Linked DNA regions of Homo sapiens: region 1 is linked to region 2. The links come from fine-mapping of genetic effects on gene expression. A gene starts in region 2. The other region holds a variant in brackets. All regions are shown on one strand. Distances are between the middles of the regions. Region 1 holds the start of KANK3 (KN motif and ankyrin repeat domains 3). Region 2 holds the start of CD320 (CD320 molecule).

What was found.
Region 1: its variant is fine-mapped to the expression of CD320 in whole blood (INTERVAL, PIP above 0.99).

The regions. Positions count from the first base shown.
Region 1 is chr19:8,338,586-8,349,822 of GRCh38, forward strand. It overlaps KANK3 (KN motif and ankyrin repeat domains 3), which reads right to left and starts at 4,677. Exons shown (of 11, transcript NM_198471.3): 1 at 4,640-4,677. It also overlaps the pseudogene LOC100129682. RefSeq lists enhancers at 1,685-2,185, 4,120-4,911. The variant T/C (reference allele first, on the strand shown) is at 5,788.
Region 2 is chr19:8,303,587-8,314,823 of GRCh38, forward strand. CD320 (CD320 molecule) reads right to left here and starts at 4,772. Exons shown (of 5, transcript NM_016579.4): 1 at 4,563-4,772; 2 at 1,445-1,570; 3 at 269-502. The coding sequence starts at 4,704. It overlaps NDUFA7 (NADH:ubiquinone oxidoreductase subunit A7), which reads right to left. Exons shown (of 4, transcript NM_005001.5): 4 at 7,698-8,009. The coding sequence ends at 7,919. RefSeq lists enhancers at 330-896, 3,535-4,275, 4,262-4,391, 4,276-5,015, 5,071-5,600 and 1 more and silencers at 4,472-4,561, 4,536-4,874.

The DNA.
Region 1 (11,237 bases), 35 kb after region 2:
CTCATCTAGGCTGGGCGCGGTGGCTCACGCCTGTAATCCCAGCACTTTGGGAGGCCGAGGAGGGCGGATCATGAGGTCAGGAGATCGAGACCATCCTGGTTAACACGGTGAAACCCCATCTCTACTAAAAATATAAAAAAGTAGCCGGGCGTGGTGGCAGGCGCCTGTAGTCCCAGCTACTCGGGAGGCTGAGGCAGGAGAATGGCGTGAACCCGGGAGGCGGAGCTTGCAGTGAGCTGAGGTGGCGCCACTGCACTTCAGCCTGGCAACAGAGCGAGATTCCGTCTCAAAAAAAAAAAAAAAAAAAAAAAAAAGGATGTAATTGTGCATCCAAATTTTTACCAAGGTCAGTTGTGAAACTCTTGCAGGAATGATGGGGAATTGCGGGCTGGATGCACCAAAGATCCAAATCAACAAATCAACGGATACTTGTCTCCCTGGAATGTCGCTAGCGGAGTGTCACAGGCTTGATCCTTGGCTTGTAAGAGTTTGTAATGCAAACACAAAACACCTGGGTTGTCAGAGCTGTGACTATTCATGGGGCTGCCTGGGAAAGTGACTGTTTGGATGACATGATGGAGGCTGTAAGAAAGTGAGGAAGATTGGGCCACATATAATAATGTGATATTTAACAAGGACAAATATTGAATCCAGAACTTTGGTTCAAAAAGCACAGGGTGAAATCTCAGCACTCTGGGAAGCCAAAGCAGAAGGATCGCTTGAGCCTAGGAGTCAAGACCCACCTGCGCAACATAGCGAGACCCTATCTCTTTTTGTTTTTTTTTTTTTTTGAGACAGAATTTCCCTCTTGTTGCCCAGGCTAGAGTGCAGTGGCACAATCTTGGCTCACTGCAACCTCTGCCTCCTGGGTTCAAGTGATTCTCCTGCCTCAGCCTCCTGAGTAGCTGGGATTACAGCCACTGCTACTATACCTGGCTAATTTTTTGTATTTTTAGTAGAGATAGGGTTTCATCATGTTGGCCAGGCTGGTCTCGAACTCCTGACCTCAGGTGATCCACCCACCTCGGCATCCCAAAGTGCTGGGATTACAGGCATGAGCCAAGGTGCCTGGCCACTATCTCTTTTGTTTGTTTGTTTTTAAATAGTGAAACCACCAAGCACAGTGGCTCACAAGCCATTGCTCTCCAGCCTGGGCAACAAGAGCGAAGCTCTGTCTCTAAATAAATAAATAAAATAGCGAAACCCCATCTCTACAAAAAACACAAAAATTAGCTGGATGTGTTGGCATGCACCTGTAGTCCCAGCTACTCAAGAAGCTGAGGCAGGAGTATCTCTTGAGTCCAGGAGATGCAGGCTGCAGTGAGTTATGATCATGCCACTGCATTCCAGCCTGGTTGACAGAGCAAGACCTTGTCTCAAAAAAAAAAAAAAAAAAAAAGAAAAGAAAAGAAAAGAAAAGCACAGGAACATGGAGTGGGAAAGATGGGCTTTGGAAAGCCCACATGGAAAACCTTCAGGGAGGGGAAAGTGCCTACGGTGTGCCCTTCCTGATTAAATGTCATCGCCATAGCTGGACACAATGGTGCATGCCTGTAGTCCCAGCTACTCAGGAGGCTGAGGCAGGAGAATCGCTTGAACCTGGGAGGCAGAGGTTGCAGTGAGCTGAGATCATGCCACTGCACTCCAGCCTGGGGGACAGAGCCAGACTCCGTCTCAAAAAAAAAAAACCATATATATATATATATACACACACACACACACACACACACACACAGCCCCCATACAACACTTTGCATACTGCAAAGTAGTATTATTATTCATATTTTACAGATGGAGAAACTGAGGCACAGAACAATTAAATCAGTTGCCTGTGGGAAGCACCCTCAGATTGGGCTCTGCCCATCTGCGGAACCCTTGTCAGCAGGTCCCTGCCACAGCTTCTGACTGCCCTTTACCTGTCCAGTCCTCCACTGACAGGCATCTGCCAAACCCACTTCATCCTCTCCCTGGGCCACGGCCCGTCTGTGCTAACCACATGGCAACACTCCCAGCCACCCCTTCTGGCTTCTCGAATCCCTGGGACCACCTGTGTGCCTGATGCTATGAAGCACTGAGCACCCACCAGCCCTCCTGACTCATTACCCTACTCCACCGCTGGGGAAACCGTAACTCCATTTCCCACTTCTGTCTGGCCGAGGTCCCTGACCTCTCCCTTCCCACTCCAAGGCCAGGCAGGGGGCCTCTTCCAGTCCCCAAGCAGCTGTTTCCCGTCCCTTCACACCAGCTGCAAGGGGTGGATCAACAGGCCAGCGGGTCATCGCAGAGGACAGCCAATGCCGTTCATCACTTGTTTTCAGGAAATTGCCAGGGAAGAACTGGGTTGTGGAAAAAGTCCAGATCAAGGGTTGGGGGGTCTGGGTCTACTTCTCACACAGCTGGCCGTATGACGCAATGGGGTCAGCGTCCTCCTCCGGTGACCTGGTCACACCCAAATCCCAGGCCCTGGGATCTCAGAAGACAGCTGTGGGCCATTCCTAAGACCTAAACTAGCTGAAGCAGTTGGATCCAGAGGCTGGGCTAAGAAAGGAATGGATCCCTCCAGAATGTCAAATAATAACAACGCTTTTGATATTTACTATGGGCCAGCCTCTAGTCTAAGGAATTTATGGATATTTACTTTTTTTTTTTTTTTTTTTAGAGGCAATGTCTCGCTCACTCTGTCACCCAGGCTGGAGTCAGTGGCTCGATCATAGCTCACTGTGGCCTTGAACCCCTGAGCTCAAGTGATCCGCCTCAGCCTCACAAATAGCTGAGACTACAGGAATGGACCTCTACACCTGGCTAATTCAGGCTAATATTTTAAATTTTTTGGTTTTTTGTTTTAGATGGAGTCATGCTCTGTCGCCCAGGCTGGAGTGCAGTGGCACAATCTCAGCTCACTGCAATCTCCGCCTCCCGGGTTCAAGTGATTCTCCTGCCTCAGCCTCCCAAGCAGCTGGGATTACAGGTGTGCACCACCATGCCTGGCTAATTTTTGTATTTTTAGTAGAGACGGAGTTTCACCATGTTGGCCAGGCTGGTCTCAAACCAGGCGTGAGCCGTGCCCGGCCTAATTTTATTTTTTGTAGATACAGGTGTCTTGCTATATTGCCCAGGCTGGCCTCCAACTCCTGGGCTCAAGCAATCTTCCCAGTTCAGCCTCCCAGAGTGCTGGGATTACAAGCATGAGCTACTGCACCTGACCTTGACTTATTTTTTAAAATCCTAGCTAAATCCACTGAGGTTGGATTTCCTATGATCATTGTCCCTTCCCCTATTGTACAGATGGAGAAACTGAGACACAGAACAGTTTAGTGTCCTGCCTGGGTCCTGTCATAAACAGGCAGAGGCAGGTTTTAAACCCAGGCAGGTCTTCCAGAGTCCTTGCTTTGGCCACTACACTTGAATGCTTTCTTTTATTTTTATTTTTGAGACGGAGTCTCTGTCACCCAGGCTGGAGTGCAGTGGCAGGATCTCGGCTCACTGCAACCTCTGAGCCCAGGGTTCAAGCGACTCTCCTGCCTCAGCATCCTGAGTAGCTGGGATTACAGGCACTTGCCACCACAGCTGGCTAATTTTTGAATTTTTAGTAGAGACGGGTTTCATCATGTTGGTCAGTCTGGTCTCAAACTCCTGACCTCAAGAGATCAGCCCTACTTGACCTCCCAAAGTGCTGGGATAACAGGCATGAACCACCAAGGAGCCTCAGGGGGCTTGTCCCTCCCAGCCTACACCTGTGTCAGACTCTGATTGGGGGCGGAGGTGCCCACCACCTCTGCGGCTTCAGGGGCTGGGGCCTCACTAAGTGGGGCGTTTAGCTGCCTTCCCTCTCCTCCGCTCCCTGCCCTGACTGTCACAGCTAGATCCGGATTCTGTGCCTGAGACCCCCTCATTAGGCCGTCAGAGCCGACGCCACACGCCCCCTCTCCCGCCCCAGGGACTATTTTGGGACGCAGAGCTGTGATCACCAAACCGGAGTGGTGGGGGCCACGGCAGGCCAGTGAGGATCCCAGTCCTGGGGAGAGGGCGCCTTCCAGGAGGCCCTGAGTACTGGCAGCCCCTGATGTCTGCTGGGACTCTCAGACTCTTGAGGTGGGTGGGTGGGGGACCGGTGGCGGCAGGAAGGTGGGTGTTAAAGTCATCATCACCCGTCCACCCCCAGGTCGTCCTAGCCGCACAGAGACAGAGCAGTTTCCTACAGGAAGCGCCGCCGGGCGGTTCCATCCGCTACCCATTGTCTGCGGGTCCGGGGGCCGTGCGTCCCTCCCCAAAACACCATTTCCGTGACACGCTCCCACACCCAGCCCAGCGCGAGGGGCTGGCTGGGGTCCCCAGGCCGTCCCGGGAAAGGGTCCCAGGGCCGGTTGTGGCATTAGGGAGCGAACGAGCCCCGCAGTGAGCTCCCGAAGGGCGAGAGGGGGGCAAGCCCACGCCTCCAGAGCCCCCCACTCTGCTCGCTACCCACCTGGGACTTCCAATGTGGGAGGGGTCCCGGCCAGAGGACACGACGCCCGCCCCGTCGCAGCGGGCAGAGCCCTCAGTGGGGCTGGAAACGCAGCGCAGCGCCGGGTCCCGGTGCGTCCCCGAATCCACCCACCCAGGGGTCCCCCATCCGTGTCCCCGCAAGCTGGCAATTTACCTGAAGCCGCAGCCCCAGCCGCGCCCGCACCCGAGCCCGCCCCCTCGAAGTCCGGGGACTGATTATCAAGGCCTTCGCCCTAACTGACGGCCACGCCAGCCAACCAGCACCCGAGGCTCTCCAAGCCGCCCAGTGGGACGGTGGGGTGGGACAGGCAGGCGGGGCCTGGAATGTAGGGGTGGTGACTGAGGGCGGGCCCTGGAGTGACGGTCGCCGAGCGCTGGCTGGCGGCATTTCTGCACCAGCAGAGGTCAAGTCTCTGCCCAGCGCCGGGCCAAGGAGCTTGGATTTGATCCACAGGCACGAGGGAGCCATGGGAGAACTATGAGTAGAAGAGTAACCCGGTGGGATTTCTATAACTGGCACTTATTTCGCAGTGCCTGGGTGAAGTATCAGGTCCCGGATCTTCCCCACCGCAGGGCCTCTGCACATGCTGTTCCACCTACCTGAAATGCTTTCCCTTGCACCTGTACACGTAGGTACTTTTTGAGGCTCCCCTACTGTTTTTTGTTTTGTTTTGTTTTTGTTTTTTGAGACGGAGTCCCAGGCTGGAGTGCAGTGACACTCACTGCAACCTCCGCCTCCTGGGTTCAAGCAATTCTCCTGCCTCAGCCTCCCGAGTAGCTGGGATTACAGACACACACCACCACGTCCAGCTAATATTTGTATTTTTAGTAGAGATGGGGTTTCACCATGTTGGCCGGGCTGGTCTGGAACTCCTGACCTCAAGTGATCCGCCCGCCTCAGCCTCCCAAAGTGTTGGGATTACAGGCGTGAGCCACCGCGCCCGGCCTTCCCTACTTTCTGAGGTTCAGCTTTTGTGTTGCTGCCCCCTAAATTCCTGACATAGCCCCTCCCCAGTTAGTATTTTTCTCATCACTCTATTGTATTAACCTAATAGCTACTTTTACTATCTGGAAAAAAAAAAAAAAGCAGACTCTGTTATTGGCAGGCGCAGTGACTCACGCCTGTAAATCCAGTATTTAGGGAGGCATAGATGGGAGGATAGCTTGAGCCAGGAGTTGAGACCAGCCTGGGCAACATAGCAAGACCTAGTTCTCAAAACAAAAGAAAACAACAAAACAAAAAGACAAAAACGAAACACTCAGTTATTTATTTGGTTTATTTTTTAATTTAATTTAATTTTT[T/C]TTTAGACAGAGTCTCGCTCTGTCCCAGGCTGGAGTGCAGTGGTGCGATCTTGGCTCACTGCAACCTCTGCCTCCTGGGGTTCAAGCGATTCTCCTGCCTCAGCCTTCTAAGTAGCTGGGATTACAGGCGCACACCACCACGCCCAGCTAATTTTTGTATTTTTAGTAGAGACAGGGTTTCACCATGTTGCCCAGGCTGGTCTCGAACTCCTGACCTCAGGTGATCCGCCCACCTCAGCCTCCCAAAGTGCTGGGATTACAGGCGTGAGCCACCATGCCTGGCTGGTTATTTATTGGTTTACCTGCTTGCCATCTCACTAAAGTGTCGGCACCAAGGCCAGGTGGGGTGGCTCATGCCTGTAATCCTAGCACCTCCTGAGGCTGAGGTGGGAGGATCTTTTGAGCCCAGCAGCTCAAGACCAGCCTGGGCAACAGAGTGAGACTCTGTCTCTAAATTAAGTGTCAGCACCATGGGAACAGGAAACTGGTTTTGATAACTGCTTTATCCAGCGACCCTAGTACACAGTAGATGCTTAATAAATGTTTGCTGAAATAATGTTTTCTTTTTCTTTTTTGAGTCAGGGTCTCATTCTGTTGCCCAGGGTAGAGTGCTGTGGCACAATATCTCAGCTCACTACAAACTCCGCCTCCCAGGTTAAAGAGATCCTCCTGCCTCAGCCTCCCAAGTAGCTGGGATTACAAGTGTGTGCTACGCCTAGCTAATTTTTTTTATTTTTAGTAGAGACGGGCTTTTACTACTTTGCCCAGGCTGGTCTTCAACTCCTTGGCTCAAGCAATCCACCTGCCTTGGCCTCACAAAGTGCTGGGATCACAGGCATAAGCCACAGCACCTGGCCAGAATATAGTAATATTTTAAAATGTATTTTAACATCTGATACTTTTTAAAAAAAAACAAAATTCCTGGGCTATTTTAATTGGTTGATTCTTTCAGTTAAAACTGTGGAATTCTGTCGCGTTTCCCCACAGAAACTCCATTGGAATTTTCTTCTTTGTTCCTTTGAGACAAAGTTTACTCTGTTGCCGATGCTGGAGTTCTGTGGCAAGACCTATGGCTCACTGCAGCCTTGAACTCCCAGACTCAAGCAATCCTCCCACCTCAACCTCCCGAGTAGCTGGGACTACAGGCATGTGCTACCACGTCCAGCAGGTTTCTTATTTTTGTAAGGACAGGGTCTCTCTATGTTGCCCAGGCTGGTCGCAAATTCCTGGGTTCAAGTGATTCTCCTGCCTCAGCCTCCCTAAATAGTGGCATAACAGGCATGAGCCGCTGCACTTGGCCTCCATTGGAATGTTTAAAATATATGTGTGTGTGTGTGTGTGTATATATATATATATATATATATATATATATATATAATTTTTTTTTTTTTTTGAGACGGAGTCTTGCTCTGTCACCCAGGCTGGAGTACAGTGGTGTGATCTCCACTCACTGCAAGATCCGCCTCCCGGGTTCATGCCATTCTCCTGTCTCAGCCTCCCGAATAGCTGGGACTATAGGCACCCACCACCACACCTGGCTGTTTTTGTATTTTTAGTAGAGACGGGGTTTCACCGTGTTAGCCAGGATGGTCTTGATCTCCTGACCTCGTGATCTGCCTGCCTCAGCCTCCCAAAGTGCTGGGATTACAGGCGTGAGCCACCGCACCCAGCCCTAAAATATTTTTATTGTGGCCGGGTGCGGTGGCTCACGCCTGTAATCCCAGCACTTTGGGAGGCCAGGGCAGGCAGATCACCTGATATCGGGAGTTCGAGACCAGCCTGACCAACATGGAGAAACTCCGTCTCTACTAAAAACACAAAATTATCCCAGTGTAGTGGTGCATGCCTGTAATCACAGCTACTTGGGAGGCTGAGGCAGGAGAATCACTTGAACCTGGGAGGCAGAGGTTGCAGTGAGCCGAGAGTGAGCCATTGCATTCCAGCCTGGGCAACGAGAGTGAAACTCTGTCTCAAAAAAAAAAAAAAAAAAAAAAAAATATATATATATATATATATATATATATATATATATATATAGTTGTAAAATAAAGCGTCCATAGATGCACACACACAGCAGATTCAAGAAACCACATAAAACAAATGTATACTCTTTCCCTAAGTGGCCTGAGGTAATCTGGGAAAATGGTTCGCTATTTACTTGACCCAGAGAACCCCACAAAATCATGCAAATCAAGAGGTTCAAATCTTCATGTTCACTTGGAGAACACTCATGAAACTGCCCAGGCCATCAAGGGTATGTATATATGAAAATCCACGAAGTATCTGAAAGATGTCACTTTACAGAAACTGTGTGTACCATTCCAACATTACAATGGTGGAGTTGGCAGGTGTGCCCAGGCCAAGCAGTGGGGCTGGACACAAAGTCAGTGGCCCAGAAAAAGTGCTGAATTTTTGCTGTACATGCTTAAAAATGCAGAGAGTGGCCGGGCATGGTGGCTCACACGTGTAATCCCAGCACTTTGGGAGGCTGAGGTGGGCGGATCACCTGAGGTCAGGAGTTCGAGACCAGCCTGGCCAACACGGTGAAACCCCATCTCTACTAAAAATACAAAAATTAGCTGGGTGTGGTGGCACGTGCCTGTAGTCCCAGCTACCAGGGAGGCTGAGGCAGGAGAATTGCTTGAACCCGGGAGGCGGAGGTTGCAAAGCCGAGATTGTGCCACTGCACTCCATCCTGGGCAGTAGAGCGAGACTCCGTCTCAAAAAAAAAAAAAATGCAGAGAGTAATGCTGAACTTAAGGGTTATATGTAGATTCTCTGGTCATTGAGCATATCCAAGTGAACAAAGTACCTAAGATGCGTCGCCAGACCTACGGAACTCCGGTCGGATTAACCCATGAATGAGTTCTCCCTGCCACACTGAGATGATTCTTACTGAAAAGGAACAGATTTTTCCTAAGCCAGAGGAGGAGGTTGCCCAAAAGAAAAAGATATCCCAAGGCCGGGCGCAGTGGCTCACGCCTGTAATCCCAGCATTTTGGGAGGCCGAGGCGGGTGGATCACCTGAGGTCGGGAGGTCGAGACCAGCCTGACCAACATGGAGAAACCCCATTTCTACTTAAAATATAAAATTAGCCGAGCGTGGTGGCGCATGCATGTAATCCCAGCTACTCAGGAGGAGGCTGAGGCAGGAGAATCATTTGAACCCGGGTGGCAGAGGTTGCGGTGAGCCGAGATCGCACCATCGCACTCCAGCCTGAGCAACAAGAGTGAAACTCCATCTCGGAAAAAAAAAAAAGAAAGAAAAAGATATCCCAGAAGAAACTGAAGAAACAAAAACTTATGGCATGGGAGTAAATTCAGCATTAAAATAAATGCAATTAAAAGTAAAAAACAAAAACAAAAAACAAAACAAAACCAACAACAACAACAAAAAACCCCACAAATGTATAGTTTAAGGAGTTCCTCCAGGGGGTAGTTCTCAACCAGGAGTGATTTTGCCCCATGGGAGAATGTTTGACAATATCCAGGAGCACTTTTGGGTAATGAGGAGGCGGGTGTTTTTGGCCTCTAGAGGGCGGAGGCCAGGAATGTAGCTAACCACCCTGCAATGCACAGGCCATCCCCAAGGACCAAGAATTATGTGGCCTGAATGTCAAGAGTGCTAAGTTTCAGAAACCCAGTGCTGAGATGAAGGTCATCGTCGCCTCCACCCGGGCCAACCAACTGCACTTGCCAGCTACCCCAGAAGCGCCTCCGTGGACTATGTCCTAGTCACAGCTGCCCCTCACTCCCTAAGTAACCACTGTTTTGTGACTTTTATTTATTTGTTTGTTTATTTATTTATTTATTTTTGAGACAGAATCTCGCTCTGTTGCCCAGGCTGGAGTGCAGTGGCATGATCTCAGCTCACTGCAGTCTCCTGGGTTCAAATGATTCTCCTGCCTCAGCCTCCTGAGTAGTTGAGATTACAGGTGCCCGCTACCATGACCAGATTTTTTGTATTTTTAGTAGAGATGGGGTTTCACCATGTTGACCATGCTGGTCTTGAGCTCCTGGCTTCAGGTGATCCACCTGCCTCGGCCTCCCAAAGTGCTGGGATTACAGGCATGAGCCAACACGCCCGGCCCTGTGTAGGTTTCTGTTTGTTTGCTTATTTATTTATTTCGAGACAGAGTCTCACTGTATTGTTCAGGCTGGAGTGCAGTGGTGCAATCAATGCTCACTGCAGCCTGGAACTCCTGGGCTCAAATGATCCTTAGCCTCCTGAGTAGCTGGGAGACAGGTGAGCGCCACTGCACATGTATAGTTTTATTATCCAAATGTGAATCTGTAGACACTGGAGTTTAGTCTTGCCCATTCAAAAAGAAAATGATATGTCTTTTAAGCTCCCCCTGCCCGTTTTTTTTTTTTTTTTTTTGAGACGGAGTCTTGCTCTGTTACCAGGTTAGAGTGCAGTGGCGTGATCTTGGCTCACTGCAACCTCCATCTCCCAGGTTCAACCGATTCCCCTGCCTCAGCCTCCAGAGCAGCTGGGACTACAGGCACAAGCCACCATGCCCAGCTAATTTTTTGTATTTTAGTAGAGATGGGGTTTCACCATGTTGGTCAGGATGGTCTCGATCTCCTGACCTTGTGATCGACCAGCCTCAGCCTCCCATAGTGTTGGGATTACTGGCACGAGCCACCGCGCCCGGCCTAAGCCTGTTTATTTATTTATTTATTTATTTTTAATTTTATTTTTTTGAGATGCAGTTTCACTCTTGTTGCCCAGGCTGGAGTCCAGTGGTGCAATCTTGGCTCACTGCAACCTCTGCCTCTTAGATTCAAGCGATTCTCCTGCCTCAGCCTCCTGAGTAGCTGGGATTACAGGCATGCGCCACCACGTCCGGCTAATTTTTGTATTTTTAGTAGAGATGGAGTTTCTCCATGTTGGCCAGGCTGGTCTGGAACTCCCGATCTCAGGTGATCTGCCCACCTGGGACTCCCAAAGTGCTGGGATTACAGGTGTGAGCCACCGCGCCCGGCCTAAGCCTCTTTTAATTCACAGGTTCCTCTCCATCCCTCCCTTTCCCTTACAATAGAAGCATTGCATGCCTGGGCATGGTGCCTCACACCTGTAATCCCAGCACTTTGGGAGGCCGAGGCAGCAGGAACGGTTGAGCCCAGGAGTTCGAGATTATCCTGGGCAATATAGTGAGACCCCCCATCTCTACAAAAACTACAAAAATTAGCTGGGTATGGTGGCATGCACCTGTAGTCCCAGCTACTGGGGAGGCTGAGGTGGGAGGATCGCTCGAGCCCAGGTGATCAAGGCTGCAGTGAGCTGTGATCACATCACTGCACTCCAGCCTGGGAAACAGAGTGAGACCCTGTGAAAGAAAGAAAGAAAGAGAGAAAGAGAGAAAGGGAGGAAGGGAGGAAGGGAGGAAGGGAGGGGAAGGGAAGGAGGAAGGAAAGAAGGAAGGAAGGAAGGAAGGAAGGAAGGA
Region 2 (11,237 bases):
GTACTTTTAGTAGAGACGGGGTTTCGCAGTGTTTGCCAGGCAGGTCTCGAAATCCTGACCTCAGATGATCCGCCCACCTCAGCCTCCCAAAGTGCTGGGATTACAGGCGTGAGCCACCGGGCCCGGCCCCTAATGATGTCTTGATTCCCCCACAGGGATGCAGGCACGGGCAAAGGCATGTGTCCACGCCCCCAGCCTGGCCACGCCCCAGCAGGCAGTGGGTGTCCCCATCTACCCACGAGTCCACCCCAGCCCCGCAGGTGCATACCACAGCCGAGCTCGTCGCTGGAGTCGGGACAGTCTGGGTGGCCGTCGCAGCGCCACGTGAGTGGAATGCAGTCATCGCTCAGCGTGCAACGGAGCTCGCCTGCTAGGCAGGCCAGGCGGCTGCAGTTGCGCAGTTTCTTGTCAGTTCCCCCAGAGCAGTCACTGACGCCGGTGCAGGGGCAGGGGAGGCCAGGGGGCGGTGGGCATTGCCCTTTCTGGGTACATGGCTCAATCCCTGGGGCACAGGGTTGGTCAGGTCCCAAATGCCCACCCAAGAAGGCCCAGGTACTCCCTGAAACCCCATCCCCTGCAAGCCCCACCCTCTAAGAACAGCTGAGCCCAAAAAAATGCTCCCTTCCTAAGGCTCCGCCCCCTGCAACTGTTAACTCCACTTTCTAAGGACAGGCCTCCCTGCAAGCTCTTCCCCTGAGACCCCACTAGCTCTACCTTCCTACAAGCCCACTTTATTCTATTTGTTTGTTTGTTTCTTTCTTTATTTTTTCTTTTGAGACGGGGTCTCCCTTTGCTGCCCAGGCTGCAGTGCAGTGGCGCAATCTCGACTCACTGAAACCTCTGCCTCCCAGGGTCAAGTGATTCTCCTGCCTTAGCCTCCTGACTAGCTGGGATTACAGGGGCCTGCCGCCACATCCAGCTAACTTTTGTATTTTTAGTAGAGATGGGGTTTCACTGTGTTGGCCAGGCTGGTCTCGAACGCCTGACCTCAAGTGATCCGCCTGCCTTGGCCTCCCAAAGTGCTGGGATTACATGTGTGAGCCACCGTACCTGGCTCCCTCCCTCTCTCTTTCCTTCCTTTCTTTCCTTTCTTTCATTTTTCTTTTTTTTTTCTTTTTCTTTTTTTTTCCTGAGACAGTCTTACTCTGTTGCCCAGGCTGGAGTGCACTGGCACAATCCTAGCTCACTGCAGCGGCAACCTCCCAGGATCAAGTGATCGATCCTCCCACCCTAGCCTCCCAAAGTGCTGGGATTGCAGGCGTGAGCCACTGCGCCCAGCCCAAGCCCATCTTAGACCCCGCTTCTTATGACCCACAGACCCAAGTCGCACCCATCCCTGCGGCCCTGCCTTTCCCACAAGCTCCACCTCCGCGTGCCTGGCCCCTGACAAACCACCCTCAGGCCCCGCCCCCTGTAAGCCCCGCCAAGGGGCGTGGCCACTCACTGCACTCCTCCTCATCGCTGCCATCGCTGCAGTCCAAGTCCCTGTCGCAGCGCCAGGTGAGGGGCACGCATAAGCCACTGGTGCGGCACTGGAACTTGGTGGGTGGGCACGAGCCTGAGCTGGGGCCTGCGAGATGGATGCAAATGAAGCCTGGGAAGCTGGAGGCTGGACCTTTCTCCAAGAGCACAGTAGTCACTGGCTGTGATCCGCAGGAGACAGGCGAAGTCCCGGGATATAGGAACCACACTGGCGGCTGCTTGTTACTGAGCCCCTAGTACGAGTGGGGTTCAGAGTGTAGCAGTTCCTGGGCTCAAGAGCCCCACTGGGCAGGTGCTACTGCACTCCCCAGGTTACAGAGAAAGGAACCAAGAGGAGGCCATACAGCTGGTGGCAGAGGCTGGGTGCAGTGGCTCACGCCTGTAATCTCAGCACTTTGGCAGGCCGAGGCAGGTGGATCACTTGAGGTCACGAGTTCGAGACCAGCCTGGCCTACATGGAAACCCCGTCTCTGTTAAAAATACAAAAATTAGCCGGGCGTGGTAGTGCACGCCTGTAATGCCAGCTACTCGGGAGGCTGAAGCATGAGAATCGCTTAAACCTGGGAGATGGAGGTTGCAATGAACCGAAATCATACTGCTGCACTCCAGCCTGGGCGACAGAACGAGACTCCGTCACCACAAAAAAGAAAAAAAAAAGAGCTGGTAGCGGAGTTGGGCTTCGAACTCAGGTCTCGCTGATCCCAGAGTCTTCACCAGGCTCCTCATAGCGAGATGATCTGCCAGGGAGACCTCCAAACTCAGTGGTTAAAGAGACTGAGGGACGGGCCATTTTTCCACATGCCCTGGGTCAGGCTCCCGGGCTCAGGTCAGCAGGGAGGGTCTATCTCCTCTGCGTAGCAAAAGGGAAACTGAGGCAGTGGGTGGGAAACTGAGGCACTGGGTAGAAAATCTGCTCAGTCACCAAGTCCTGTTGCCCCGCCTCCTGAATTCCTCCCAGACCTATCACTCTCCCCATCCTAAATGTGTCAGCTCCTCACCAGAGCCCCAGGCCCCAGGCCCCAAGGTCCATTAGGACACCAGAGACTTGCCTTTCCCTCTCTCCTCCCTACACCCTGTGTTTTCCCCTCAATTTTCAGATCTCAGCTGATTTCCTGGGAGGGTTCTCATGTCCCTCTTGGAGACCTAGGAAGCACTGCCTCCCATGTCTAACAACTGTCCTTAAAGCCCTGGTCATGCCTGTCCACCCACAGACTGGACATTCTGTGGAGGTCAGGGCTGTGACCTGGCCGCCTAAACCCAGGGCAGTGCCTGATTATAAGTGGACACAGGTCACATAAGGGTCCAAGCTGGGTCCAGAGAAGATCCCGGCTGTCCTAGATTCTGAGCAGGGAAGCTCAGCTGCTTGCCGACCTGGAGGGGCACGGAGGGGCCCGCAACCTGGGCCAAGGGACAGAGGAAGGGAGTGGCCTTTACGGCTTCCTCCTGGGTGCGGCCAGGGGAGGTGGCAAATCCGCCACCCTGGCTTAGCTTCACTCTGCCAAGGCCTTTAACCTCTTCCACCTTTACCCACCAGCCATGAGCCTCCAACCCCCCACTCCCCACTGCCAGCCCCTCCTCGGCCTTCAGGCCTAATTGCACCTACTTGCCACAGGGTCCCTGAGCTCTATGGATCCCAGAAGAGCTGTGGACAAACCGGTGCCTGCTTCCTTCCCCGCCCCCGGGAGATCTGGCAGCCTCCAGGTGTGGCTCTCCACCCAGGCGCAGACTTCCACAGCCCTGACACCTCTGACCTCCCTTCGCTGGACTGCGGGAGTGTGTATCCCTCTGCAAAGTGGACAGTAGAGCACAGCAGTCCCCGCCTCATAGGGTGTAAGCCTGACAGGAGTTACAGTGACCAGTGACTTTCTCTCCTGGCCTCAGTTTCCTCACCTGTAAACGGGGTATGCTGGGAATCCCTACCTCAACATCCTGAGAAAAAAGAGACTGTGTATAGAGTTTTGTCCTGTAATCCCAGCACTTTGGGAGGCTGAGGCGGACAGAACACTTGAGGTCAGGAGTTCGAGACCAGTCTGGCCAACATGGTGAAACCCCATCTCTACTAAAAATACAAAAATTAGCCGGGCATGGTGACGGTGCCTGTAGTCCCAAGCTACTCGGGAGGCTGAGGCATGAGAATTGCTTAAACCCGGGAGGCGGAGGGTGCAGTGAGCCAACATTGCACTGCACTCCAGCCAGGGCGACAGAGGGAGACTCAAAAAAAAAAAAACAAAAACTTTTGTACTTGGTTAACGTGAACGCTGCCTCCTTAAAAAAAAACAAACAAAAAAAAACCCAGGAACATTTAACGTGAATGTCAGGGACTTTGGGATGAGTCCAGGGACCTAGAAGTGCGGAATGCACAAAGGAGCTGGGAAAGTGTGTGAGCCTGAGCCCAGGGCTGCAAGTTGGGAGTGCCTGAGTGCACAGGGAGGCCACTCCAACCCTCCAGCTGCCTCTAGGGGTATCAGAGAGGGAGCCCGTCCCCACTGGCCACCAATACCTCTTAGGCCAGGGCGAACACGTCCACGGGGGTATATTCAACTTGTGACCCCAGTCTCTGCGAGAGCCTGCAGTAGCATGGGGGGGAGAGACCTCGCGTTCTCTAAGGATGGAGGACAAAGGAGGAGAGACTGGGAGGGCAGGGACGGTTGCGGAACGGTCACAAGGCCTGGGCGCGAGGGTTTGGAAGGCAAAGGTGCGAGAGGCACCAGGTGACCCGTCCTGCGTGATTAGCGGTCGGACAATCTGAGCCTGCTAAGAGCTTTCCTGACCACGCTGGTATGAAGGGCGGCTTGGAGGTGACAATGGGGGACGACAGGGCACAGCAGGTGTGGAGACGGTGTGCAGGGCCGGAGCAAAACCGTTAAAGGCAGGTGGAGACACCCTCCTCCCCTCCCCCAGCATGGGGTCTTCCTAGCACCAGTGCGCGCCTTCCCACAAGCGATGAAGTCCAAGTCCACGTGCTGGGGGAGTGTCATGAACTGACGTGCGGTGCAGCCAGTGACTAGGCGTTGTCGGTGCGCGGCGGCGGGGCGAAGCCTCGCGAGGGGTGGGAGCCCGCGCTGCGGGGCGTCACTCACCTGCGGCCTGGGCAGAGGTCGGGGTGGAAAGCGGGCTCGCGGCGGCCTCCAGGCCTAGTCCGAGGCCGAGCAGCAGCAGCAGCGCCAGGCCCAGAGCCCCTGTTCGCCACGCTCCAACCTGCGCCATCCAACCGCCGCTCATGCTGTCCCCACAGCGGCGCCGGCCACGCGCTGTCCAGACCGCTCTCTTATCCCTGCGCACGCGCACGCGCGGGGTTGGGGCGGGGCCCAAGCCCCTGAGTTCTGCGGCGCCCGCGGCTACGCGTACCGTAAATGTCAGAATAGCAGGGAAAAGAGAATTAGAGGCCCGTCCCCACTTTCCCCAGTGACCAGATCAGTTGAAAGGTATGGAGCCCGCTTGAAGTTAGAAACTTCTGGGGATGGGAAGGAATTTGTTGGTGTTCATTTGCATTATTTCCCGTTCCAAATGAGGACTGCTGCAAATGTTACTGCCTCGTGATCTTCTTTAATATGGCAGCCACGCCCCTCAGGCACTCCGCATTTCCTCCCTCATCCCACTGCTTTTGTGGCGCCGACAGGTAATTTATTTTATTTACTTATTCTGGTTTGTTGTCCGAGTCCCCATAGAATGCTAGCTACTGGAGGGCAGGGATCTTCTGTTGCTCACTGCTTTATTCTCAGGATCTGACACATAGTGCTTGACTCATAGTAGGCTCTTAGTAAACATTTGGTGAGTAAATGAATAAATGAAACGTCCATTCTCGGAGTCGGGTTGCTTGGGGGGGAAAAAGGAAAGGAAATCAATTAATTAATTAAATTTAATAATAAAGGCCGGGCGCGGTGGGTCACGTGTGTGATCCCAGCATTTTGGGAAGCAGAGGCGGGCAGATCGCTTGAGCCCAGGAGTTCGAGATCAGCCTGGGCAACACAGCAAGTCCCCGCCCGCCTCAAGAAAAAAGAAAATTAGCTGGGCATGGTGGCTCTAATTTGTAGTCCCAGCTACTCAGGAGGCTGAGGTGGGAGAATCACTTGGGGCTGCACTCCAGCGTGGGTGACAGTGAGACCCCATTTGTTAGAAAAGTTGGCCGGCGCGCTGGCTCACGCCTGTTAACCCCAGCACTTTGGGAGGCCGAGGCAGGCGGATCACGAGGTCAGGAGTTCTAAACCAGCCTGGCCAACATAGTAAAACTCCCGTCTCTACCAAAAATACAAAAATTAGCCGGGTGTGGTAACATGCTCCTGTAGTCCCAGCTACTAGGGAGGCTGAGATGGGAGAATCGCTTGAACCCGGGAGGCGGAGGTTGCAGTGCGCCGAGACCACATCATTGAACTCCAGCCTGGGTGACAGAGTGAGACTCTGTCTCAAAAAAAAAAAAAAGTTGTGGTCATAAAACTTGGTTCAGATGCCGTCAGCGGCATGCCTTGCCTAGGGTCTTGCCCTCCTTGTGGCCTCTGCACACCCTGCCTAGTCTTTCCTTCCCTCCTGACCTTTCTGAATCTGATTCATCCTTTTGCCCCAAGCAGAATCCCACCTTCTCCAGGAAGGTGTTAGCCTTTGTAGGACCCACTCTGGGACACTGGTACCTGCTGCCTGTAGCCGTGGCCTTTCCCCTTCCAGAGGGCAGGGCGGTCTCAGCACCCTCTTGGTCCACAGCTGATCTTTTTTAGCTGCTGAAGGGTCTGGGGCTGTGCCCTGGGGAAGCCATGACACTCCCCTGCGTAGGGTCACTGGGTGGCTCCTGCAGCCAGACTTGGACACCCTCCCTTTGCAGATTTCTGTCTCCTCCCCAGGAACCAGCTGCCTTCCTTCTGGGGCGAATTCATTCTTATCCCACAGCCCCAGCATAATGGGATCTGGCTCAGGGAGGCCTTTCCTGATCTGCCCTAGGTTTGCCTTCCCTGTGAGCAGCCCTTACTGTCCTCTGCCTTCCCCGTTGAGCTGCAGGGTGACCATGGTCAAGCAGGAGCCTCAGTGGGAAGGTGCTGAGGAAGGTTCATGTGAGAAGTGGCTGTGGGAGCCCTCAAGAGATGGAAGTTAGGCCAGGCGCGGTGGCTCACGCCTGTAATCCCAACACTTCGGGAGGCAGAGGTGGGCGGATCACTTGAGGTCAGGAGTTTGAGACCAGCCTGGCCAACATGGCGAAACCCCGTCTCTACTAAAAATACAAAAATTAGCTGGGCTTGTGGCAGGCGCCTGTAATCCCAGCTACTCGGGAGGCTGAGGCAAGAGAATCACTTGAACCCAGGAGGCAGAGGTTATAGTGAGCCGTGATCGCGCCATTGTACTCTAGCCTGGGCAACAAGAGCGAAACTCTGTCTCAAAAAAAAAAAAGAAGTGAGAAGTCTGTGGCTGGCCTACTGAGTGTCCGCACATACACCCCTTACCCCACCTGACTGGTCTTCACAATCAATGCTCCCCAACAGCCAGCGGTCCTGGGAGTCCAACCTCCCAGAAGGATCACCCACTCCCACCACTCTCAAGGTCAGAGCCTGGCCTTTGGGGGAAAGGGCAGTGCTGTCTCCAGGGCCTCTGCACCCAGGGACAGTGTCTGTCCCACCCCTGGAGTGCCAACAGAGTTGGGAGACTCAGCACTGACTTCACCCCAAAATCCAAGTAAGCTGGGTATTGCTTAAAATCAGGGGCCAGGCGTGGTGGCTCACACCTGTAATCCCAACACTTTGGGAGGCCAAGGCGGGCGGATCACCTGAGGTCAGGAATTTGAGACCAGCCTGGCCATCTCTACAAAAAAAAAAAAAAATTAGCGGGTATGGTGGTGCACACCCGTAGTCCCAGCTACTCGGGAGGCTGAGGCAGAATTGCTTGAGCCCAGGAGGCAGAGGTTGCAGTGACCTGAGATCGTGCCGTTGCGTTCCAGCCTGGGTGACAAGCGCGAAAACTCTGGCTCCTGCAGCCAGATTTCTATCTCCTCCCCAGGAACCAGCTGCCTTCCTTCTGGAGCTAACTCATTCTCATCCCACAGCCCCAGCATAATGGTTTCTGGCTCAGGGAGGCCTTTCCTGATCTGCCCTAGGTCTGCCTTCCCTGTAAGCAGCCCTCACTGTCCTTTGCCTTCCCCGTTGAGCTACAGGGTGACCAAGGTCAAGCAGAGGCCTCAGTGGGAAGGTCTAAAAAATAAAAATAAAATCAGGCCAGGTGTGGTGGCTCATGCCTGTAATCCCAGCACTTTGGGAGGTCAAGGCAGGAGGATCGCTTGAGGCCAGGAGTTCAAGATCAGCCTGGGAAACATGGTGAGACTCTGTCTCTATTTTTTTATTTTTTAAAGTAAAACTAGAAGTGATACCTGAGCTCTACGTATTTGTCATAAATTAGGTCACATTCTCCCTGGAGGAAATCCAAGGAGGCAAAGTAGTCGGGTGGCCGTGAGGGTGCAGTGTCACAGGTAAGGCTGGTCCGAGGACAGCTCCCACCTCTTTATGGGAGGAGCTGGAGTCACCGCCTTCTTCTCAGTGGCAGCTACAGCAGAGCTGGAGGAGGGAAAGACTTCAGTGAGGGTTTCCAAAGAACAGTGTGGAAAGATCTGAGGGAGCCCACACCTGCCCCGGGACAAACACACCCACAGGGACTTTCTGGACCTGCAGGACAGACAGCAGGGTGTTCCAGAATGCCAACCCCTCCAACGCAGCCCCTCAGAGGATCAGCCAACGCCAGGTGGGAGCTAGCAAGCCTCCTCTCTCCCCTGAGCCCTGTATGAACCCCCTGCTGTGGCCCCCAGGCCCAGAACCCACTGTGGAGAGCTGGGCTCCTCCCTTCCCACTTTTGGTCTCCAGCGTACACAAGGCCCCCACCCCCATTCCTGCTGCCCCTCAAAACAGGATGCTGGCAAAAGGGCCAAGCGATCAGGTGACAATGGCCTCCAGCTATTCCTGCCTCAGACTGGGCAAGAACTGCATGGCAGGCGCTACTGTGTGGGCGCAGAGCCAGGAAGATGGGGCACCGCCCTCAGGAAGACTCAGGCTGGTGGGGCTGAGAATCCATGCGCAAATGGCAACTGCAAAACGCATCTCTGGCCCAGAGCTGGCCAAGAGGGAGCCCCCAGGAGACCCTGTGCCGGCAAGTCCAGGACGAGCACCCTCCCCTCTCACCCCACCCACCTGAGCCTGTGGAGCTCACACACTTCACAGCCTAAGCAAGAAAGGAAGCAGGAGGGTGGGGTGATGGAGGAGGCGCCCCAGGGGTGGAGGCACAGGACCTCCCAGGAGCCTCAAGGAAATGGAAAAGGCAGAAGTGGCCTCCCTGGGAAATGCACACATCTCTGGGGGCATGGCAAGGGGCTGTGTGGGAACAAGGTATCTTGCCACACTCTGGTGCTGGACTCCAGTGAATCAGAAGGTGACAACAAGGACCACTCCACTGAGTTCCTTCTTTTTGAGACAGACTCTTGCTCTGTCACCCAGGCTGGTGTGCAGTGGCACAATCTCAGTTCACTGCAACGTCCGCCTCCCAGGCTTGAGTGATTCTCTTGCCTCAGCCTCCCAAGTAACTGGGATTACAGGTGTGCACCATCACTCCCGGCTAATTTTTGTATTTTCTTTCTTGTTTATTATTTATGAGACAGGGTCTCACTTTGTCACCCAGGCTGGAGTGCAGTGGCGCAATCTCAGCTCAGTGAAGCTTCCTCGACCTCCCAGGTTCAAGAGATCCTTCTGCCTCAGCCCTTCAAGTAGCTGGGCCTACGGGTGCACACCACCACACCCGGCTAATTTTTGTATTTTTTGTAGAGATGGGGTTTCCCCATGCTGCTCAGGCTGGTCTTGAACTTCTGGGCTCAAGCGATCCACCCGCCTCGGCCTCCCAAAGTGCTGAGATTACAGGCGAGAGCCACAGCGCCCCTAACTTTTGTATTTCAGTAGAGGCAGGGTTTCGCCCTGTTGGCCAGGCTGGTGTCGATCTCCTGACCCCTAGTGATCCTCTCACCTCGGCCTCCCAAAGTGCTGGGATTACAGGCGTGAGCTACCATGCCCAGCCTAAAAAATTTCTAATAGAGACGGGGTCTCGCTGTGTTACTCAAACAAGTCTAGAACTCAAGCAATCCTCACACCTCAGCTTCCCGAGTCACTGGGATTACAGGCACACACCACTGCGCCTGGCCTATTCACAGAGTTCTTTTTTTTTTTTTTGAGACAGAGTCTCACTCTGTCACCCAGGCTGGAGTGCAGTGGCGCGATCTCAGTGAGCTGCAAGCTCCGCCTCCCGGGTTCACACCACTCTCCTGCCTCAGCCTCCCGAATAGCTGGGACTACAGGCGCCCACCACCACACCTGGCTAATTTTTTGTATTTTTAGTACAGACAGGGTTTCAACATGTTAGCCACGATGGTCTCGATCTCCTGACCTGGTGATCCGCCCTCCCCGGCCTCCCAAAGTGCTGGGATTACAGGCGTGAGCCACCGCGCCCAGACCTCACAGAGTTTTAAGTACAGAGCAGGCCCTGCCTGACCTCATCACCTCCCAGATCTCAGCACACTGCAAGTCTAGCATCCCTATTTTATATGTGAAGAAACCAAGGCTCAAGAAGGCTGAGGGACTGCCCACACCGTGAGTTGGCTGTAGAGCCCAGACCCCAACAGGAGTCCAGGAAAACTGGTTTGAAATCCTGCTTCTGCTTACTGCTGCCTGTGTGGCCCAGGCCAGTCACTTGGCTTCTGTGAGCCTCGATTTCCTCTTCTGCAAGAGGGGTCATCACCATCTAACTGGTGGAGTTATTAGGAGGTAGGCAGGACACTGACTCTGTGCCAGGCTCCAAGAGTTTACAAATATTAATTATGAGGACTAACCCTCGTAACAGCTTTCTGAAGTAGATGCTATTAGAGTCCCCATTTAATTAAGAGAAGACACCTGAAACCAGGGACCAAACTGCTTTTTGAGAGGAGCCCAAGGTTTATACACTTCTGTCTCTGAGAAGAATACATGGCTGGGCATGGTGGCTCACACCTGTAATTCCAGCACTTTGGGAGGCCGAGGCCAGAGGATCACATGAGGTCAGGAGTTCAAGACCGGCCTGACCAACATGGTGAAACCCCATCTCTACTAAAAATACAAAATTAGCCTGGCATGGTGGCATGCGCCTGTAATCCCAGCTACTTGGGAGGCTGAGGCAGGAGAATCACTTGATCCTAGGAGGTGGAGGTTGCAGTGAGCCGAAATCGCGCCACTGCACTCCAGCCTGTGCAATAAGAGTGAGACTGTCTCAAAATAAATAAATAAAATAAGAATTCATAATTATATCAACAGTAATGTCTCAGTTTCTCACAGGACCCTTGGAGGGACCCCGGACTTCATCTGTTTTGTAGGATGCAGAGTCCTGGCTGAGGCGCTAACTTCTACCCTCCCCTGGGTTGGACTAAATGAGCTCTTGCTGAGCATGGTGACTCTCACTTGTAGTCCCAGCTACTCGGGAGGCCAAGGCAGGAGGATCGCTTGAGCCCAGGAGTTTGAGAACGGCCTGGGCAACAAAGCAAGACCCCATCTCTACGAAACATTTAAAAATTAACCCAGCATGGAGGCCGGGCATGGTGGCTCACGCCTGTAATCCCAGCACTTTGGGAGGCCAACGCGGGCAGATCATGAGATCAGGAGATCAAGACCATCCTGGCTAACACGGTGAAACCCCGTCTCTACTAAAAATACAAAAACTTAGCCAGGTGTAGTGGTGGGCACTTGTAGTCCTAGCCACTAGGCAGGCTGAGGCAGGAG